Regions from separate parts of the Homo sapiens genome. Here region 1 is linked to region 2. Evidence: fine-mapped expression QTL. Tissue or cell type: testis. Region 2 holds a variant in brackets; the other region holds the start of a gene. All regions are shown on one strand. Distances are from middle to middle. Region 1 holds the start of SCN9A (sodium voltage-gated channel alpha subunit 9). Region 2 overlaps SCN9A (sodium voltage-gated channel alpha subunit 9).

Region 1 (2,919 bases), 34 kb before region 2:
GAGAATTATCACAAGTGAGCTAGTTCACCTTCATTGCACAGTCTCAGTCACTGAAGTTTCCTTCCTTCAATAGCACATCTTACAAGTCAAGAATGTAAGGTCCAAAGCCCCAGGACAAATCTCAGAAGCAAAGAAAGCAGCAGGGAAAAGTAGACCCTGGGATTTGATTTCCTTCCGGTTATCTCTAAGCATCATTTCCATGATAGAAGGTGTGGAAGCAAATAATAAAAGTGCCCGTCACTAGTGTTTATCCTGCAAAGTGGTCTGCCCTTTTGAGAGGCACCCTGCCCTATGGCCATCCTTTGATTTCTTCCCTTGGTGGAAATTTCCTGTTTCTCTTTGAGAAAGATAATTCAACCCTGTTTCCATTGTTCTTCCTCCCAGGCTGCTGTAGGAAAGCGCACGCACACACTCCACACAAAATGAATTTTTAAAAAATTTATTTTCACAGTCGCTCCTACCAGCTCTGAAATTCAGAACCCATATGACTGATGGCATATTCAGATAATCGGGTCCCAGGTCTGGAAAAGCAGCCTTTTCCCCACGTTTCTTTCCCCACCTAGGACCTCCTCTGATTCTTCACTGCATCTTCGAAAGAAAATGTATTATTTGCTTGCCTGGAAGACGCTGCAATTCAATTGATTTTATATATACATATATATAAAGAAAACAGAAAACATAGCCTAGATACCGGTCTTGAGCGTCACCGCCCCACTCGCGGTTGTGAGCAAAGCCCTACGGAAGAAACCAATTCCCAGCCTAGACTCTTCAGAGCCCAAGGTCGGGGAGGCGCTGGCCTGGCGGTGTTGTCTGGCTCCCCAGCCACTGCCCCAGACTCAGGGCTTTGCCATTGGTCCCCACCTCCTCTGCTCCGGAGTTTTTCTCCAGCTCCCCACCAAGCCACACAAAGTGACTTCTCGGAAACATTAGCCGATTCTGCTGAGCAGGAAGGGAGGAAAGGGATGATGGGGGCGGGGGTGAGATAAGGGAAGGGCTCTTCTGGCTGCTGGACACACACACACACACACTCAAACACACACACGCCCCACCCAATGGGTGGCCGTGGATGGCAGGTCGTGCAACCCCCTCCTCCGCCTTCTATTAGCGCATGGTGCAGAGGCTACAGCGTCGCCACCACCGCGCCCCTAGCTGGGTCCCCGCCCTGCGCCGCCCGCAGGAGTGGAGAGAGGGAGGGAGGGAGGGAGCAAGGGGTGGGGACCCGGGCGCGCTGGGAGGAGTGGAGGAGGCAAAGCGGCGCAGCTGCCCTCGGGGAGGCGGGGCTGCTACCTCCACGGGCGCGCCCTGGCAGGAGGGGCGCAGTCTGCTTGCAGGCGGTCGCCAGCGCTCCAGCGGCGGCTGTCGGCTTTCCAATTCCGCCAGCTCGGCTGAGGCTGGGCTAGCCTGGGTGCCAGTGGCTGCTAGCGGCAGGCGTCCCCTGAGCAACAGGAGCCCAGAGAAAAAGAAGCAGCCCTGAGAGAGCGCCGGGGAAGGAGAGGCCCGCGCCCTCTCCTGGAGCCAGATTCTGCAGGTGCACTGGGTGGGGATGATCGGCGGGCTAGGTTGCAAGTAAGTGCCTTTTCTTTTGCTGCTTCTGTGGGGAGGGGAGGAGAAGCCCTCGGTCTTTCGCCCGTGCTCGCCTCAACCGCCACACCCACCTGTGTCTATTTTCACATCTCGGTTCTGGAACCCTGTATTACGCCACCTGGAAAGAAGAGAGGGGAGAAGCTTGACCGGGTGGTTCCAGCAATGGGAGGAAGAAGGGCTGGAAGCGTAGTTATTTCGATAGCTGGGCAGCTCCTGTGCGGTTTTGACTCTGTGGGTTTGCTGCCAGGTTCTGAAACTGTGGAAAGGAAGGGTAGCAATGCCTGGTGGTTTACTGTCTTTTATTTCTGTTTACGCTAGCAGAGTTGTTAGATGGACTTCAATTCAAGGGGCAGCTCACATTTTTTACGAGCAAAAAGCATGTGCTGTATTTCCCATCTGCAAAGCTGAGCGTGCAGAACCAGCTTAGCAGATACAACCTGTGGGGACAGAAAAGAACCCCGCACCCCTTAAGAGCACACAAACACAAATAATTGACAGGACAGCTCTGCCCCTATTTCTCAGCGCAGATTATTTATTTATTTTTTCGAATAAGCACTTTATAGTGAAATTCAGAAAAGATGCAGAATCCTTTTAACTTTTTATCGAATTCAACTTGGGAAACTCATTTACTTTTAGGAAAAAATGGATATTTTCGTGCCTTATATTCAAGACAAAAATCAGAACAAGAAACTAGAAACATTAATGCCAGTTTTTGTGATTATAGTAAACATTTCACTCATTATTTTAGTTTTTTTTTTTTAAGTTGGAGCGTTCATAGATTATATCTACTCTGATGTTAAGAGCAATTTACATGAGAAACTTAGGGGGGTTTTTAAGAAGCTAGTGTCAGTAAGATAAAAGCCAAATCAAAGTAAGCTTTCAAGGAAGTGATAGCTTGTCAGTTACTGAATAGGAAGTCAGTGTTGGGAAGTTCAGTTCTTTTCAGAAACATATTTATTATTCTTTTCTATTTCTTCTTCCCTGTAGACAAGATAAAGATTTTCTTTCTCTTTCTTTCCTTGTTATTTAAATATATTTTATAATTTTTGCTTTAACATCAATATAAACCTATTTTATATAAACTGCAAACCAAATCCAATTATTAAACTGTTCATTTTATTGCAAATTCTTCAGATTTTTTCCACTATTTAAAAAAGTTTATAATTTTTTCTTATAATTATGGTGAGATTTTTTAAAAATTATTGATTAGTTTGAAAGCTAGTCTTATCTGATCCCTGTGTCGCAAATTTTCATGATTGTTAGACTAGCTTATCAACAACAAAACTCTAGACAGAATATGGTATTTGATGTAAAGAAGAATGTGCCCTCTATTTA
Region 2 (2,919 bases):
GATTAGAATTCTAAATAGGTTATCACAAATCTATAATTTTTTTCCTATAAAACAAGCAAAGTATATGACAAAAAAATCGGTGCTCTTTTTTCACCTCACCAAGAAAATTAGTGTAATTATTTCATATGAATAAGACTTTTTACCTGCACTACATTATTTAGTTAATTTTACAGGCTCTAGAAAGATGTTATGCAAGAGAAGACATTTCAATTAATCTGATGTTGAAAGAATGCTAGTTTTAAAACTCAATGCACTCTATGTGCTAAAAACGTTTTTGCAGCATGAAGGTAGGGATGGACAGGGACATGTTTGCCTGAGTTCTCCAGGGAAGCTTTGGTGGTGGATGTATGCAAAGGGCATAATCTGTGGTTTCCAAAGTTGAATATGCACACCTAAGAACAATGCTGGAAGAGCTTTGTCTTCATTCTTATCTTTAAAAGTTTCAATTTTATTCAAGATCAAGGTAATGATAGATTTAAAAAATAATGATAAAATAAAAAATAGTTTCAATTTTGTGTATATTTTTAAATGCATATGTTTTACACTGCATGTGTAGATTGTTTATAATTTAGCAAGCATATAAATTCATTTATTGGGAGATCTTTTATTATTATTGGTATTGCTATTATTGAGCTGGTAAGGGTGATGATCAAAAATAATTGGAGACTCTATTCTAAACGTGAGGTAGAAAATTTTCTCTGACTCTAATGGTTTAATCTTTAAAAAACAGTTTAAGCCACACTATAATTAAAGCCATAATGTTTGTAACACTTAATTATAAGGATGGAAAACTTGGTCCTATAGATATTATCACCTTAAGGAAAGGCAGGAAAGCTAACTGCAGTAGTTGACCATTGGCACATTGAAGGGGTCATGACTGGCCTGCAGTGTCAAAAAGTGACCAAACAGGGACATCTCCATATGGCATTCATTGACTAGATTGGTTCTATTACTGATTGAAGTCATTTGTGTTTTTTGTACAAACTTTAAATAGCCCAAAGATTCTAAACGATTTTAAAGTAAATGCAATATATTATTAGTATTATATAGTCTATACATACGTGCTGATGTGTTTGTGCGCTTTTCTCTATTTATAGGGCATCATAATTTCTCAAATATAAGGTATAATATAATCAGGACAAGACTTGGGAACAACATAGTATACATAATAATCACATAGTTATTATTTTGACAAA[C/T]ATTTATGCCACACATGCAGAAACACAAGTCTGCAACCCTCCCTATGTATTGACATTATTCTGCAAGTATGCTTACAAAACAATATAAGAGAGATCAGAATATCCTAGTATTCTTAAGGTTAAAACCGAAACCTTTCTTGTATTTCCTGAATGAAATGACAGATTAATGTTATTGATGAAATGAATATGGCTTGGCTTCCTTGAGACACAGGCTGTTAGTAAAAAAGCAATTAAGAAAATAATAAAGAAATGAAACAGCAATTCCTCTTCCTTTTTCCTTTCTTCTGTACTGTGTCATAGCAAAAGTAATATAATAGCAACTAATTATAGGAAATCTCCCAGACTTTGTAATTGGATCTTTCATTTTTTCCCACAGCAACTGTGAACTAAGAATTTATTCACAGAGCAGCTGTAGTTTGTTTCCAGTAACTCTTAGCAGTGTCTCTTTGTGGAGTCTTAAAGAGACCCATGTACATATTTAGGCATATTGGCTAAACTAGTGCCTTTTAAAACATCTGCAGGTCTATTGTTGCCAATTCTTTCATTGTCTTCTATCAAATTAACTTTTCTTAGACGGTATAAAGTGGGAGAAGCCACTGAACTCAAAGCTCAAAGCCTGACTTCTGGTCATAGCTTCAATGTTTCCTTAAACATGACTTGGTAACAAGCACCAAACTTTGTAAATCTCAATGTCACCTTTGGTAAGAAAAATGAAAGGAATCTTTGCAGTTTATATTTTAGAGCATTGCTATATGTGAAAGAGCTGTGAAAATTATAAACCAGTGTAACTCACCATGTCATTATATAGATATGTCTAAGTTATTCTTGAATGTGAAATTTCCATTTGCTTGACAAATGTCACTCTATTACATACATGATAGTTAAAAGCATCTTATTTTCCATTTGTTCCCCAGCCCAGTTTTCAACTTTTCTTCTAAAAAGGTAAGGTCAATTAAGAGATATTTCCAAAGGAAATAGTTCTTTAGAAAATACTTTAGTATATCAATGCACATAATAATACAAAGAAATGCAGTTATAAAAATAAAATATAGAATAAATACACAGCTACCATATTCTTGGCATATATTTGTACATGAAGAAATAAACTTCAAAGCCAGGCAGGACGGCTCATGCCTGCAATCCCAGCACTTTGGGAGGCTGAGGTGGGTGGATCACTTGAGCCCAGGAGTTCAAGACCAGCCGGGGCAACATAGTAAGACCCCATTTCTATAAAAAATAGACAAAACTTAGCCGGGTGTTGTGGCGCCTGCCTGCAGTCCTAGCTACTTGAGAGGCTGAGGTGGGAGGGTCACTTGAATCCCAGAGGTGGAGGCTGCAGTGAGCTGTCAATGCACTACTGCACTACAGCCTGGGTGACACAGAAATACACTATCAAAAAAGAAAGAAGAGAAAGGAAAGAAAGAAAGAAAAAGAAAGAAAGAAAGAAAGAAAGAAAGAAAGAAAGAAAGAAAGAAAGAAAGAAAGAAAGAAAGGGAAAGAAAAGAAAGGAGAGAGGGAAGGAAGGAAAAGAAAGAAAGAAAGAAAAAAAGAAAGAGAAAGAAAGAAAACGTTGTGATATGATTAGAGGACTAAGTCTTAACGATTAGAAGCCTGATTTTTAAAAAATTCAAAAACCAAGAATCAGTAGTAGTAGTTGAGAAAGTAAAACTGAGTGAAAAGTAGTTTTGCAATCAATGTGGAAACACTATTTGGTAAAATGCAC

The links. PIP is the estimated chance that this variant, and not a neighbour inherited with it, causes the effect.
Region 1: SCN9A starts here. The variant in region 2 is fine-mapped to the expression of SCN9A in testis (GTEx, PIP 0.91).

The regions. Positions count from the first base shown.
Region 1 is chr2:166,374,344-166,377,262 of GRCh38, reverse strand. SCN9A (sodium voltage-gated channel alpha subunit 9) reads left to right here and starts at 1,319. Exons shown (of 27, transcript NM_001365536.1): 1 at 1,319-1,566.
Region 2 is chr2:166,340,312-166,343,230 of GRCh38, reverse strand. The region is part of intron 1 of SCN9A (sodium voltage-gated channel alpha subunit 9); the gene reads left to right. Among named protein-coding and RNA genes, the nearest start is that of SCN9A, 34 kb to the left of the region's middle. The variant C/T (reference allele first, on the strand shown) is at 1,197.